Regions from separate parts of the Homo sapiens genome. Here region 1 is linked to region 2. The links come from fine-mapping of genetic effects on gene expression. Tissue or cell type: whole blood. Region 2 holds a variant in brackets; the other region holds the start of a gene. Each region is shown on its reference strand, or each on the opposite one.

Region 1 (8,324 bases), not on the chromosome of region 2:
TTTCAACATATTGGCCAGGCTGGTCTTGAACTCCTGACCTTGTGATCTGCCTGTCTCGACCTCCCAAAGTGCTGGGATCACAGGAGTGAGCCACCACGGCCGGCTGTTTTTTTGTTTGTTTGTTTGAGACGGAGTTTCACTCTTGTTGCCCAGGCTGGAGTGCAATGCCATGATCTCGGCTCACGGCAACCTCCACCTCCCAGGTTCAAGTGATTCTCCTGCCTCAGCCTCCTGAATATTTGGGATTACAGGCATGCGCCACCACGCCCAGCTAATTTTGTATTTTTAGTAGAGATGGTGTTTCTCCATGTTGGTCAGCCTGGTCTAGAACTCCCGACCTCAGGTGATGAGCCTACCTCGGCCTCCCAAAGTGCCGGGATTACAGGCATGAGCCACCACATCAGGCGACATTATGTTTTAACTAGCGCTATGGATGATTCTGATGCACATGGTTTAAGAACCACTGTCTGGCCAGGCACGGTGGCTCGCGCCTGTAATCCCAGCACTTTGGGAGGCCGAGGAGGGCGGATCCTTTGAGGTCAGGAGTTCGAGACCAGCCTGACCAACATGGAGAAACCCTGTCTCTACTAAAAATACAAAAAATTAGCTGAGCGTGGTGGCACATGACTGTAATCCCAGCTACTTGGGAGGCTGAGGCAGGAGAATTGCTCGAACCTGAGAGGTGGAGGTTGCAGTGAGCCGAGATCGCGCCATTGTACTCCAGCCTGGGCAACAGGAATGAAACTCCGTCTCAAAAAAAAAAGAACCACTGTCTGGCCAGGCGAGGTGGCTCACACCTGTAATCCCAGCACTTTGGGAGGCTGAGGCGGGCGGATTACCTGAGGTCAGGAGTTCAAGACCAGCCTGGCCAACATGGTGAAACCCCATCTCTACTAAAGACACAAAGTGGGTTGTGGTGGCGGGTGCCTGTAATCCCAGCTACTCAGGAGGCTGAGGCAGGAGAATTGCTGAACCCGGGAGGTGGAGATTGCAGTGAGTCAAAATCGCATCAATGTACTCCAGCCTGGGTGACACAGCGAGACTCTGTCTCAAAAAAAAAAAAAAAAAAAAAAAAAACACAAAAAACAGACAAAAAAAACCCACACACACACCAAAAATGAACCACTGTTATAGACTGTCTAGTAATAATAATTATTATCGTTATTATTATTATACCACTAACAGTTAACACTTACTGAACCCTTACTGTGTGCCAGATACTGCTTGGAAAGTGTACCTGTATCAATTCATTGAATACTCTCAATTTCCCTGAAAGAGAGGCACTGTTATTCTGTCCATCTTACAGATGAGGAAAACTGAGGCCTGAACTGGGGAACTGACTTGCAGACATTCACACAGGGAGGGGCGATGACAGCAGTATGTAAACCCCAGCTCCAAAGCCCAGGATGGCAGTGATTACCTTCTACTAAGCCACAGTGAATCTCTAAAGAAGCCTTTGCGCATGGATAGGTGGTAAGATTTACCTGTCACGCTTTTTTTTTTTTTTTTTTTTTTTTTGAGTCGGAGTCTCGCTCTGTCTCCCAGGCTGGAGTGCAGTGGTGCGATCTCGGCTCACTGCAAGCTCCGCCTCCCAGGTTCACGCCATTCTCCTGCCTCAGCCTCCCGAGTAGCTGGGACTACAGGAGCCCGCCACCACGCCCGGCTAATTTTGTTTTTGTATTTTCAGTAGAGACGGGGTTTCACCGTGTTAGCCAGGATGGTCTCGATCTCCTGACCTCGTGATCCGTCCGCCTCGGCCTCCCAAAGTGCTGGGACTACAGGCGTGAGCCACCGCGCCCGGCCACCTGTCACGCTCTTAACAGTCCAAGAGGTAAGAAAACCTAGGGGGCCCATCTCAACTGGCAGGGAGGGATGCACCCTGTCAGGAGAAAGCTGAGGTGGACCTCGTGAACCCCCAAACAGAGACATCTCTGTGGAGTCCTCCCAACCTCATCCTGCATGAGCGAGTGGGCAGGAACTGTGGAGGGCTGCTCACCTGTGCTCCTGGAAACGGCGAGCGAGAGTGAGGAGAGGTCGGGGGACCCTGCAGAGAAGGAGAAACGTCTCAGGAGGTGATGGGGGGCAGCCAGAGGACCAGAGAATATCCCAAGGAAGCCCCACCCCTTCCTCTTCTAGCCCTTCCCCTCTGGATCAGGCCCCTCGCCCTGACTGCCCCCCTGCGTCTGGCCAGGCTTACCAGCTAAATCATGGACAGGTCCTGGCCTTTAGTTTCTGTGGTTCGCCCCACCCTTCATCACACTCAGGGCCCGCTCCTTTTCTCCCTTAAAGTTGGGCCTGGAGGGGACCCCATCTCAATCTCAGTTTAAAAAGTCCCCATCCCGCTGGGCACAAGGGCTCACACCTGTAATCCCAGCACTTTGAGAGGCCGAGGCGTGCGGATCACCTGAGGTCAGAAGTTCGAGGCCAGTCTGACCAGCATGGTGAAACCCCGTCTCTAGTAAAACTACAAAAATTAGCCGGGTGTGGTGGCGGGCACCTGTAATTCCAGCTACTCGGGGGGCTGAGGCAGGAGAACTGCTTGAGCCCGGGAGGCAGAGGTTGCAGTGAGCCTAGATCGTGCCACTGCACTCCAGCCTGGGCGACAGAGCGAGACTCCATCTCAAAAGAAAAAAACAAAAAACAAACAAAAAAAAACATCCTCCTGTCAGGGTCAGACCACTTTTAATTTTTTCAATGTCAAGGCTCCGCTTCTCCGTCTGGAGGCAAGCCCCACCCCCTCCTCATTCTCTGTGTCGGGCCCCGCCCTGCTTTTTTGGGTAACAGGCCCTTCCCCTCCACTCGGCCAGAGTCAGGCCCCGCCCCTTCCCCTTCTTTCGGCCAACTCAGGCCCCGCCCCCTTCCTGCCCTCACGGCCAGGCCCCGCCCCCTCACCCCTCAGCGTAGGGCCCTGCTTCCTTTTTTGAGTCAGGCCCGGCCCTCTTCTCATAGTCCGGGTCGGATCCCGCCCCTCTTCTCCCTCTCTGGGCCCGGCCCCGCCCCGATACCGCCCAAGAGCAGCTTTCGCTCCGCCTTCTCTGAGTCAGGCCACGCCCCCTTCTTTGCCTCAGGGTCAGGCCCCGCCCCCTCTCACTCTACAGCGGGACGCCTCGCTCGAACCTCGGGCCGTACCCCCTCATCACCCTCTGCCTTCTTCCTACGCCCTAATACAGTGTCTCAGGAACCCTCACTCTGCCCCCGCGAAACCCTTAGACTCCCATAGGAACCCCCAGACTACTCCGGGACCGCCAGAATCCCCGCATCTCCAGCCCCGCCCCAGACCCCTCTCCTGAACCCCAGCCCCGCTTACCTAAGGCCCCCAGCTCCGGCGCAGCCGGCGGTCTGGCGACGCGGCGACTCGGCATGGCCCGGCCAGTGGGGACGGACGGCCCAGAGGCTGGCCCAGACCGAAGCATGCACGCGGGCCGGCCGGGCGGCCGGGAGGCACGGTCTGGTGGACGATCGCGGGTCGGACGAGCGGCGCAAGGGCTGGGGCCGCAGGCCGGGCAGGACGCGCGGCGCCCGGGGCTGCGCGGGGCGCGGGGCCGGGCCGGGCGGGCGGCGGGCGGGGGCGGGGCGGCGGAATTCCCCGGCGCCGCCGGCCTGCGCGCCCATTGGTCTGCACCCCGCCGTGACGTCACGCCTGGGGAACGGGAAAACCCCCACGCGTCACGTGATCGCGGGGGCGGGGCCGGCCGGGAAAGGGAGGCTGGGCGCTCAGGAGGGGTTGGGCAGGCGTCGCTGCCCATTGCTCTGGACGAGACAACTGAGGCCTGCTTAGAGCCATCACGCCTTACCCATTGAGCAAGCCGGCAAACTGAGCCGCTCCCCGCTTTGGTCTCCCAGTGGGACTTGAACCTGCCGTTTCTCAGGCTGGAAGGGGAGCTTCAGGATCGAGAGGTTGGCAGGGCTCTACACCTGCCATCCATAATAATATTTCGGAAACCTCCAAGGTCTCGCTACACCTCAGTTTCCTCAACCGTAAATTGAGGATGAAGATATTTAAGGAACGTTTAAAGCTAGCGTGTCAGCTTCAGAATTTATGTTTTGTGCGTTGTTGTAACCCCAACGCCTAGACCAGCGCCTGGAACACCGTAGGTGCCCAATAAATGTTTATTGGAGGCCGGGCGCGGTGGTTCATGCCTGTAATCTCAGCACTTTGGGAGGCCGAGGCAGGCACATCACGAGGTCAGGATTTCGAGACCAGCCTGACCGACATGGTGAAATCCCATCTCTACTAAAAATACAAAAATTAGCTGGGCGTGTTGGTGTGCGCCTGTAATGCCAGCTACTCCGGAGGCTGAGGCAGGAGAATAGCTTGAACCTGGGAGGCGGAGGTTGCAGTGAGCTGAGATCGTGCCACTGCACTCCAGCCTGGGCAACAGAGCGAGACTCCCATCTCAAAAAAAAAAAAGTTTATTGGATGAATGCATGGATGTTTTATTTATTGGTTTGTTCCTCCCTGCAGCCCCTGAAAGTTACCCATAAATAGCCCAGACCACTTTGAGCTCAAAAGCTCAGTTATTCAGTCTGCGAATGGCAGCAGTGTAGCCTCCGTATACATCCTGAGCTGTGTGCCTAAACCCTGAGCTCATCCCTATCACCAGCGCCAGAAGCATATGATAGGATTATTGCAGAAGGGACTCAGGCTGAAAGAGGGGCAGCCATTTGGCTAGATCACATTCCTAAGCCTCTCATATTCCTGAGAACGACTAGGTGATCTATTAGGTTCTAAGTTGGATGCCAGGCGCTCTCAGACCACAGATGCAGGGTTTGTTGTCTTTCCTTTGCTTGTATAAAATTTGGGTGTTCTGGCTAGGCACGGTGGCTCACACCTGTAACCCCAATACTTTGGGAGGCCGAGGCAGGAGGATTGCTTGAGCCTGGGAGGTTGAGGCTGCAGTGAGCTGTGATGACGCTATTGCACTCCAGCCTGGGTGACAGAGTGAGACCTTGTCTCAAAAAGAAAAAGAAATAACTCTGTAAGTTGAATGTTCACAACAATTGTGTGAAGTATATGGTGTTATTGATCCCCACATAGCAGATGAGAAAACTGAAACCCGGCAAAATTAATTTCTCCAAGGTCACACAAATTAATAGACACAAATATTTAAAACACAAAATTCTTAGAACAGGGCCTGGCACATGTGGGTGCTATATACAAATGTGAACTTTTTTTTTTTTTTTGAGGCAGGGTGTCACTCTGTCACCGAGGTTGGAGTGCAGTGGCAGGAACATGGTTCACCACAGCCTCAACCTCCTGGACTAAGGGGATCCTCTCACCTCAGCCTCCAGAGTAGCTGGGACTACAGGCACACACCACCGCATCCGGCTAATGTTTTCTTTTCTTTTCTTTCTTTTTTTTTTTGAGAGATGGAGTCTCGCTCTGTCACCCAGGCTGCAGTGCAGTGGTGCGATCTCAGCTCACTGCAATCTCTGCCTCCCGGGTTCAAGCGATTCTCCTGCCTCAGCTTCCCAAGTAGCTGGGACTACAGGCATGAGCCACTGCGCCCAGCCTGTTTTCTATTTTTGTAGAGAGAGGATCTGTTGCTTAGGCTGAGCCAGTGCACCTGGCCAAAGGGCAACTAACTATTAACATCATTTTATTTAATACTCATGACCGTCCTATTATTAGACCCACTTTACAGACGGGAAACTGAAGCTCAGAGAGATGAAGTCAGTTGCCTGAGGCCACACAGCTGGTGAGCTGGGACCACAGGTGTGCGCCACCATGCCTGGCCTAATTTTTGTGTTTTTAGCAGAGATGAGGTTTCACCATGTTGCCCAAGCTGGTCTCAAACTCCTGGATTCAAGCGAGCTGCCTACCTCAGCCTCCCAAAGTGCTGGGACTACATTTCTTTCTTTCTTTTTTTTTTTTTTTTTTTAGTAGAGATGGGGTTTCACCATGTTGTCCAGGCTGGTCTTGAACTCCTGACCTCAGGTGATCCGCCTGTCTTGGCCTCCCAAAGTGCTGGGATTACAGTCGTGAGCCACTGTGCCCAGCCCTATTTCTTTCTTTTTTTTTTTTTGTTGAGATGGAGTCTTCCTCTGCCACCCAGGCTGGAGTGCAGTGGCGCGATCTCGGCTCACTGCAAGCTCCTACTCCCGGGTTCACGCCATTCTGCTCCTCAGCCTCCCGAGTAGCTGGGACTACAGGCGCCCGCCACCATGCCTGGCTAATTTTTTGTAGTTTTAGTAGAGACAGGGTTTCACCGTGTTAGCCAGGATGGTCTCAATCTCCTGACCTCGTGATCCGCCTGCCTTGGCCTCCCAAAGTGCTGGGATTACAGGCGTGAGCCACCACACCCGGTCTTCTTTCTTTTATTTAAGACATGGGATTTTGCTGTTGCCCAGGCTGATCTTGACCTCCTAGCCTCAAGTGATCCTTCTGCCCGAACCTCCCAAAGCGCTGGGATTACAGGCGTGAGCCACTGTGCCTGGCTCTTCAATTTACAGTTATTACACACAGCGTAACAGTGTCAGGCACTGCTCTAAAAGCTAGGGACATAGCAAGGCACACAGCAGACAAAAAGCCCTTGCCATCAAGGAAATCCAAGTGAGGAGACAGATGGAAAACAGATAAGCAAATATTATGTCTGATGGTGATGGCAGTATTACAGGATAGAGCAGGATAACGAGAAGGAGTTCGGAAGATAGTTTGGGTTAGGAAGATCAGGGTCTGAGAGGTGCCATTTGAACAGGGAGTCAAAGGAGGTGAGGGATTCATGTGGATATCTGGGGGAGAGTGTTCAAAGCACAGGGGCTAGCACGTGCAAAGGCCCTGTGGTAGGAACATGCATGGCATGCTTAAGGAATAGCAAGAAGGCTGGTGCAGAGTGACTGACAGGAAAGGGGTAGAGATGAGGGCAGAGTGATGGACCAGTAAGGTGACGAGGACACTGAATAATATTAAATGTAATGGATGAAGCCAACCACATGCAGCACTTACACTAGTGCTTGGCTTATGATAAGGATGACAAATAGCAGCTCCAATTGTTATAGGACCAGAAGCTCTCCTGATTCCTCTCTGCCTCTTGCCAATGCCAGGCCTCAAAAATGTTTGTTGAGGCTGGGTGCAGTGGCTCATGCCTGTAATCCCAGCACTTTGGGAGGCCAAGGCAGGCGGATCACCTGAGGTCAGGAGTTCAAGACCAGCCTGGCCAACGTGGTGAAACCCCGTCTCTACTAAAAATACAAAACTAACTGGGTGTGGTGGCATGTGCCTGTAGTCCCAGCTACTAGGGAGGCTGAGGCAGGACGATCACTTGAACCCAGGAAGTGGAGGCTGCAGTGAGCTGAGATCACGCCACTGCACTCCAGCCTAGGTGACAGAGTGAGACTGTCTCAAAAAAAAAAAAAAAAAAAAAAAGTTTGCTGAATGACTAAAAGGACATGTCAGGGCCAGGCACGGTGGCTCATGCCTGTAATCCCAACACTTTGGGAGGCTGAGGCAGGCAGATCACCTGAGGTCAGGAGTTCAAGACCAGCCTGGCCAACATGGTGAAACCCCATGTCTACTAAAAATACAAAAATTAGCTGGTGTGGTGGCGGGCACCTATAATCCCAGCTATTCAGGAGGCTGAGGCAGGAGAATCACTTGAACCCAGGAGGCGGAGGTTGCAGTGAAGTGAGATCGTGCCACTGCACTCACTCCAGCCTGGGTGACAGTGACTCCATCTCAAAAAGAACACAAATAAATAAAAAGGGGCCAGGCACAGTGGCTCACGTCTGTAATCCCAGCACTTTGTGAGGCTGAGGCGGGTGGATCATGAGGTCAGGAGTTTGAGACCAGCCTGATCAACATGGTAAAATACCATCTCTACTAAAAATACAAAAATTAGCTGGACGTGGTGGCGCACTCCTGTAATCCCAGCTATTCAGGAGGCTGAGGTAGAAGAATTGCTTGAACCTGGGAGGCAGAGCTTACAGTGAGCCGAGATCGCGCCACTGCACTCCAGCCTGGGCGACAGAGCAAGACTTTGTCTCAATAAATAAATAAATAAATAAATAAAGGATAGCCAGGCGCCGTGGCTCATGCCTGTAATCTCAGCACTGTGGGAGGCCGAGGCAGGCAGATCACTTGAGGTCAGGAGTTCGAGACCAGCCTGACCAATATGGTGAAATGTGAAACTCTGTCTCTACTAAAAATACAAAAGTTAGCTGGGCTTGGTAGCAGGTGCCTGTAGTCCCAGCTACTCAGGAGGCTGAGACAGGAGAATTGCTTGAACTCGACAGGCGAAGGCTGCAGTGAGCCGAGATCGTGCCACTGCACTCCAGCCTGAGCAACAGAGCGAGACTCCATCTCAAAAAAAAAAAAAAAAGTAAAT
Region 2 (8,324 bases):
ATTATGTGATGGTCCCCAAACCTCCAGCATTAACTCTCCCCTGTAAGCTGGAACCCAAGTCCTGGATCTTCTGCTGACATTAAAACCCAATATGGGCCAGGTGCGGTGGCTCACACCTGTAATCCCAGCACTTTGGGAGGCCGAGGTGGGTGGATCACCTGAGGCTGGGAGTTCGAGACCAGCCTCACCAATATGGAGAAACCCCCGTCTCTACTAAAAATACAAAATTAGCCGGGTGTGGTGGTGCATGCCTGTAATCCCAGCTACTCAGGCGGCTGAGACAGGAGAATTGCTTAAACCCGAGAGGCGGAGGTTGCGGTAAGCAGAGATTGCGCCATTGCACTCCAGCCTGGGCAACAACAGCGAAACTCTGTTTCAAAAAAAAAACCAAAAAAACAAAAAAACCCGTTGTCGGATATTCAATTATCTTCTCCTCATACCTGTTCTTGGTAGATGGCATCTTTCCAGGGTGACAAAAGAAAAGGAATTAGGGAGTGAGAGTTTGTTCACCCCATCACCCAAGCCGAAAACCTGAACATCATCCTGTCTTCTCCCATCACTGCAGCCAAACCAAATGGTGAAATTTTTATCTCCTAAAATGTTCTCAAAGCTGAGCTGGTCCTTCTCTACCCTTATTCTGGCTTTCATTTCCCTCATCATCCCACACCTGGACCACTCAGCAGCCGTCTGACTCAACTCCAGTGCCTCAATCTTATCCTTTTCAACTCCTTTTTCCAACCAGCTGCCAGAGAGGTCTCTCTAAAATATACATATCATACTTTTGCTTAAAACACTTTTTTTTTTTTTTTTTGAGACAGAGTCTTGCTCTGACGCCCAGGCTGGAGTGCAGTGGCATGATCTCAGCTCACTGCAACCTCCGCCTCCCAGGTTCCAGCGATTCTTCTGCCTCAGCCTCCTTAGTAGCTGGGACTACAGGTGCACGCCACCACGACCAGCTAATTTTTGTATTTTTAGTAGAGACGGGGTTTTCCCATATTGCCCAGGCTGGTCTCAAACTCCTGACTTCATGATCTGCCCGCCTCGGCCACCCAAAGTGCTGGGATTACAGGCATAAGCCACTATGCCCGGCCTGCTTAAAACACGTTAATGGCTCCCCAGAACCTATGACAATGTTTCTTAATAATAGCTGCTCATTATCCTATAGTATGCTATAGGACCAACCAATGAGAAAGGAGAGGCCCTCTCCTGGATGCCACTGCTCCTTCACACTCATTACTTCTCCAGAGGTTTATGATATTCATTGATACCAGGGATCAGCAATTTTTTTCTGTTAAGGGCCAAATGGTAAATATTTCAGGCTCTGTAGGCCACATGTTCTCCTTTATATCTACTCAACTCTGCAGGACAAAAGTACCATAGACAGAGGAGAAGGGGTGGAGCAAGAAGGCAGAATAAAAGGCTCCACTGATCGTCCACTTGCAAGGACACCAATTTAACAACTATCTACACATGTAAAAAAAGCACCTTCAAAAGAACCAAAAATCAGGTGAGGACTCACAGTACCTGGTTTTAACTTTGTATCACTGAAAGAGGCACTGAAGAGGTAGGAAAAACAGTCTTGAATCACCACTGCCATTCCTCTCCCATCCCCCTGCAGCAGCAATGTGGTGCAGAGAAAGACTCTGAGTGTTTGGGAGAGGGAGAGTGCAGCAATTGTGAGACACTGCATTGAACTCAGTGCTGCCCTGTTATAGCAGAAAGCAAAAATAGAACAAACTCAGCTGATACCCACCCACAGAAGGGGCATTTAAACTAGCTCTAGCCAGAGGGAAATTGCCCATCCCAGTGGTTGAAACTGGAGTTCCCACAAGCCTCACCACCATGGGCCAAAGTGCTCCAGGCCCGTAAATAAATTTGAAAGGCAGTCTAAGCCACAAGGATTGCAACTCTTAGGTGAGTCCTAGTGGTGAACTGGGCTCAGAGCCAGTGGACTGGTAGGGGCATGTGACCTACTGAGACGATAGCTAGGGGAGTACTGGTGCCATACCTCCCCTAAGCCCAGGCCGCACATCTCACAGTCTCCTAAACAGACCCACTCCTTCTACTTGAGAAGAGATGGAAGAGTGGGGAGGACTTTGTCTTGCATCTTGGACACCAGCTCAGCTACAGCAGGATGGGGTACCGGTCAGAGTCATGAGACACCCCCTTTTCTAGGCCCTAGCTCCTGGACATTTCTAGACACACTCTGAGCCAGAAGGGAACTCACTGCCTTGAAGGGAAGAACCCAATCATGGAAGGATTCATCACCTGCTAACTGAAGAGCCCTTGGGCCCTGAATAAGCAGCAGCAATATCCAGGTAGTACATCATGGGCCTTGAGTGAGACTCTGATATTGCTAGCTTCAGGTACCACCTCAGCCAGAGGTGGGTAGAGCACTAAGGGTGAGTCCCAGGCCAGGCAGCATGCACCACAAGCTGACTGAAGAGCCTTTCGGCCTTATGAGAACATCAGTGGGAGCCTGGCAGAACTCCCTGTGGGCTGGTGGTGGCGGTGGCCACACGGTGGGGCTCCTCTGCTTTTGGAAACGGGAGGGAAGAGTGGGAAGAACTGTGTCTTATCATTTGAATGCCAGCTCAGCCACAATACAACAGAACACCAGGTAGACTTCTAAGATTTTTGACTCTACTCCCTGGCTCCCAAATGGCACTTCTGGACCTGCTGAGGCCTGGGGGAACTTGTCGCCCTGAAGGGAAGAACACAGGCCTGGCTGGCTTTACCAACTGCTGATTGTAGTGCCCCAGGGCCTTGAGTGAACACAGACAGTAGCCAGGGAGTAGTTAAGCAGGCTTTGGGCAAGATCCAGTGCTCTGCTGGCTTCAGGTCTGGCCCAGCACAGTTCTAGTGGTGGTGGCCACAAGGGTATTTGTGTGACTACGTCCTCAGCTCCAGGTGGCTCAGAATGAGAGGGAGAGACTGTTTGTTTAGGAAAAAGTAAGGGAAGAGAACAAGAGCTTCTGCCTAGTAATCCAGAGAATTCTCCCTGATCTTGTTCAAGGCCATGAAGGCAGTACCTCTTACCACAGCATTACTGGGCTTTGGCTGCCCCCTAAAGCACATACAACTTAGATCACAACACCCAAGTCCTTTTAAGTATCTGGAAAGCCTTCTCAGGAAGGAAAGGTACAAACAAGCCCAGACTGCAAAGACTACAATAAATACCTAACTCTTCAATGCCCAGACATGGTATCAAGACCATCCAGGAAAACAGGACATCACAAAATGAACTAAATAAGGCAGCAGGGAACAATACTGGAGAAACAGATGTGTGACCTTTCAGACAGAGAATTCAAAATAGCTCTACTGAGTAAACTCAAAGAAATTCAAGATAACCCAAGAAGGAATTCAGAATTCTACCAGATAAATTTAACAAAGAGATTGAAAAAAAATTAAAAAGAATCAAGCAGAAATTCTGAAGCTGAAAAATGTAACTGGCATGCTGAAGAATGCATCAGAGTCCTTTAACAGCAGAAGGGATCACACAGAAGAATTAGTGAGATTGAAGACAGGCTATTTGAAAATACACAGTTAGGGCTGGGCATGGTAGCTCACGCCCGTAATCCCATCACTTTGGGAGGCCAAGTGGGCAGATCATGAGGTCAGGAGTTCGAGACCAGCCTGGCCAACATGGTGAAACCCCATCTCTACTAAAAATACAAAAATTAGCTGGGCGTGGTGACGTGAACCTGTAATCCCAGCTACTCAAGAGGCTGAGGCAGGATAATCGCTTGAACCTGGGAGGCAGAGGTTGCAGTGAGCCAAGATCATGCCATTGCACTCCAGCCTGGGCAACAGAACAACACTCCGTCTCAAAAAAACAAAACAAAACAAAACAAAACAAAACAAAAAAACACTAACTCAAAGCATTG[A/C]ATGATCAAACTTACTTTCCTTCCTTCTTCCTTCTTCCTTCCCTTTCCTTTGCTTTGCTTTCCTTTCCTTTCCTTCTTCCCTTTTTTTTTTTTTTTTGATGGAGTCTCACTCTGTCGCCCAGGCTGGAGTACTGTGGCGCAATCTTGGCTCACTACAACCTCCGCTTCACGGGTTCAAATGATTCCCCTGCTTCAGCCTCCCGAGTAGGTAGGATTACAGGCACGCACCACCATTTCCAGCTAATTTTTTTTTATTTTTAGTAGAGACAGGGTTTCACCATGTTGGCCAGGCTGGTCTTAAACTCCTAAACTCAGGTGATTCACACCCACCTCGGCCTCCCAAAGTGCTGGGATTACAGGCGTGAGCCACAATGCCTGGACGAATAATCCAACTTTCTTTTTTTTCTTGTTTTTTATTTTTTTGAGATGGAGATTTGCTCTTGTTGCCCAGGCTGGAGTGCAGTAGTGTGACCTTGGCTCACCGCAACCTCCGGCTCCCAGGTTCAAACGATTCTCCTGCCTCAGCCTCCTACGTAACTGGAATTACAGAGGCCCGCCACCACGCCTGGCTAATTTTTATATATTTTGTAGAGACGGGGTTTCACCACGTTGGCCAGGCTGGTCTCGAACTCCTGACCCCAGCTGATCCACCCACCTCAGCCTCCCAAAGTGCTGGGATTACAAGTGTGAGCCACCACACCCAGTTGAATAATCCAACCTTCAACGGATAAAGAAAGGATTGGGGCTGGGCGCAGTGGCTCATGCCTGTAATTCCAGCACTTTCGGAGGCCGAGGCGGACGGATCACCTCAGGTCAGGAGTTCGAGACCAGCCTGGCCAACATGGTGAAACCCGTCGCTACTAAAAATACAAAAATTAGCCAGGCGTGGTGGCAGGTGCCTGTAATCCCAGCTACTTGGGAGGCTGAGGCAGGAGAATCACTTGAACCTGGGAGGCGGAGGTTGCAGTGAGCCAAAATAGCACCACTGCACTCCAGCCTAGGGGACAAGAGTGAGATTTCTTCTCAAAAAAAGAAAAAAAGAAAGGATTGGCTAGGTGTGGTGGCTCACACCTATCTATAATCCCAGCACTTTGGGAGGCTGAGGCAGGCGAATCACCTGAGGTCAGGAGTTCGAGATCAGCCTGGCTAACATAGTGAAACCCTGTCTCTACTAAAAATATAAAAATTAGCTGGGTATGGTGGCAGATGCCTGTAATCCCAGCTACTCGGAAGGCTGAAGAAGGAGAATCGCTTGAACCCAGGAGGTGGAGGTTGCAGTGAGCCGAAATAGCACCACTGCACTCCAGCCTGGGTGACAGAGCAAGACTCTGTCTCAAAAAAAAAAAAAACCAAAAAGCAACTAGAGAAAAAAACAAATAACATACAATGGAGCTAAAATACATCTGGCAGCAGACTTTTCAGTGGAAACCTTACAGGCCAGGAAAGAATGGCATGACATATTTAAAGTGCTGAAGGAAAAACACTTTTACCCCAGAATAGTATATGCAGTGAAAATATCCTTCAGACATGAAGGAGAAATAAAGACTTTCCCAGACAAACAAAAGCTGAGAGATTACATCAACACCAGACCTATCCTACAATAAATGCTAAGGAGTACTTCAATCAGAAAGAAAAGGATGGCCAGCTGTGGTGGCTCATGCCTGTAATTCCAGCACTTTGGGAGGCCGAGGTGGGTGGATCACCTGAGGTCAGGAGTTCAAGACCAGCCTGGTCAACATGGTGAAACCCCGTCTCTATTAAAAATACAAAAACTAGCCAGGTCTGGTGGTGCACGCCTATAATCCTAGCTATTCAGAGGCTGAGGCAGGAGAATCACTTGAACCCAGGAGGCGGAGGTTGCAGTAAGCTGAGATCGCGCCATTGCACTCCAGCCTGGGCGACAGAGTGACTGCCTCAAAAAAAAAGAAGAAGAAGAAAAGGACCGTTACTCTGGTGACTCACGCCTATAATTCCAGCACTTTGGGAGGCCAAGGTGGGAAGATCACTTGAGCCCAAGAGTTTGAGACCAGCCTGGGCAGCATAGTAAGACCCTGTCTCTATATTTAAAAAAAAAAAATGGCAGAAAGAAAAGGACATAGGCCGGGTGCAGTAGCTCACACCTGTAATCCCAGCATTTTGGGAGGCCGACGCAGCTGGATAAAGTAAGGTTGGGAGTTCGAAACCAGCCTGGCCAACATGGTGAAACCCTGTCTCTACTAAAAATACAAAAATTAGCCGGGTCTGGTGGAGGGTACCTGTAATCCTAGCTACTTGGGAGGGTAAGACTCAAGAATCACTTGAACCCAGTGGGGGCGGAGGTTGGAGTGAGCTGAGATCGTGCCACTCCATTCCAACCTGGGCGACAGAGTGAGACTCCATCTCAATGAAAAAAAAAAAGAAAAGGACATTAATGAGCAATAAGAAATCATCTGAGGGTACATAACTCACTGTTAATAATAAGTACACAAAAAGACATAGTATATTATAACACTGTAACTATGGTGTGTAAACTAAAACTACTCTTATCTTTAGAAAGACTAAACAATGAGTTTAGTGAGGCAGTGCCTTACGCCTGTAATCCCAGCAGTTTGGGAGGCCGAGGCGGGCAAATCATGAGGTCAGGAGATCAAGACCATCCTGGTTAACATGGTGAAGCCCCGTCTCAACTAAAAAATACAAAAAAATTAGCCGGGCATGGTGGCGGGCACCTGTAGTCCCAGCTACTCGGGAGGCTGAGGCAGAAGAATCACTTGAACCTGGGGGGCAGAGGCTGCAGTGAGCTGAGATTGTGCCACTGCACCCCAGCCTAGGCAACAGAGCGAGACTCCGTCTCAAAAAAAAAAAAAAAAAAGAAAGTCTAAACAATGAACCAATCAAAAATAATAACGACTATAACTTTTCAAGACATTGATAGTACAGTAAGATATAAATAGAAACAATAAAAAGTTAAAAAGCAGGGAGACAAAGTAAAGGTGTAGAGTTTTTATTAGTTTTCTTTTTGCTTGTTTGTTTATACAGTGTTAAATTATTATCAGCTTAAAATAATAGGCTATAGTTAAGTATTAGTGAGCCTCATGGTAACCTCCAATCAAAAAACATACAAGGCTGGGCACGGTGGCTTACGCCTATAATCCCAGCACTTTGGGAGGCTGAGGAAGGCAGATCATGAGGTCAGGAGTTCGAGGCCAGCCTGACCAACATGGTGAAACCCTGTCTGTACTAAAAATACAAAAAAAAAAATTTGCTGGGCATGGTGGTGTGCGCCTGTAATTCCAGTTACTCAAGAGGCTGAGGCAGGAGAATCTCCTGAACCCAGGAGGTGGAGGATGCAGCGAGCCAAGATCGCACCACGGCACTCTAGCCTGGGCGACAGAGCAATACTCCATCTCAAAAAAAAAAAAAGAAAAATACAACAGATACACAAAAAATAAAAAGCAAGAAACTAAATTATATCACCAGAGAAAATCATCTTCACTAAAGGGAAGAAAGGAAGGAAAAAATAAGACCACAAAACAACCAGAAAACAAAATGGCAGGACTAAGTCCTTACTTATCAATAATAACATTAAATGTATCTAGGCACGGTGGGATATAACAAAAGCAGCTATAAGTGCCTATATCAAAACAGAAGAAAAACTTAAAATAAACAACCTAAATATGCATCTTTTTTTTTTGAGATGGAGTTTCACTCTTGTTGCCCAAGCTGGAGTGCAATGGCGTGATCTCGGCTCACTTCAACCTCCGCCTCCTGGGTTCAAGCGATTCTCCTGCCTCAACCTCACGAGTAGCTGGGATTACCAGCGTGCGCCGCCATGCCCAGCTAATTTTTTTTTTTTTTTTGTATTTTTAGTAGAAACGGGGTTTCACTATGTTAGCCAGGCCGGTCTCGAACTCCTGACCTCAGGTGATCCACCAGCCTTGGTCTCCCAAAGTGCTGGGATTACAGGCATGAGCCATCGCGCCCGGCCAAATATGCGTCTTAAAGAACTAGAAAAGCAAGAGTAAACCAAACCCAAAATGGAGAGACTAAATAATAAAGATCAGAGTAGAAATAAATGAAATTGGAATTAAGAAAACCATACAAAAGATCATGAAACAAAAAGTTGGTTTTTTGAAAAGTTAAACAAAATTGATAAACCTTTAGCCAGACTAAGAAAAAAGGAGAGAAGACCCAAATAAAATCAGAGATGAAAAAGAAGACATTACAACAAATACTGCAGAAATTCAAAGGATCATTAGTGGCTACTATGAGCAACCATATGCCAATAAATTGGAAAACCTACAGGAAATGGCCAAATTCCTAGACAGATTCAATATATTAAGACTGAACCATGAAGAAATAAAAAACATGAAGAGACCAATAACAAGTAACGAGATCGAAGCCATAATAAAAAGTCTCCCAGCAAAGAAAAGCCCAGGACCTGACGGCTTCACTGCT

The links. PIP is the estimated chance that this variant, and not a neighbour inherited with it, causes the effect. A credible set is the group of variants that fine-mapping cannot tell apart.
Region 1: it holds the start of RELB, and the variant in region 2 is the best candidate, but not a certain one, in a credible set for the expression of RELB in whole blood (TOPMed, PIP 0.69).

Annotation. Positions count from the first base shown.
Region 1 is chr19:44,996,669-45,004,992 of GRCh38, reverse strand. It overlaps RELB (RELB proto-oncogene, NF-kB subunit), which reads right to left and starts at 3,529. Exons shown (of 12, transcript NM_006509.4): 1 at 3,308-3,529; 2 at 1,997-2,044. The coding sequence starts at 3,413. RefSeq lists silencers at 2,696-2,975, 3,296-3,705.
Region 2 is chr14:35,128,445-35,136,768 of GRCh38, reverse strand. The region is part of intron 4 of PRORP (protein only RNase P catalytic subunit); the gene reads right to left. The region is part of intron 4 of PRORP-PSMA6 (PRORP-PSMA6 readthrough); the gene reads right to left. Among named protein-coding and RNA genes, the nearest start is that of PRORP, 10 kb to the right of the region's middle. The variant A/C (reference allele first, on the strand shown) is at 3,888.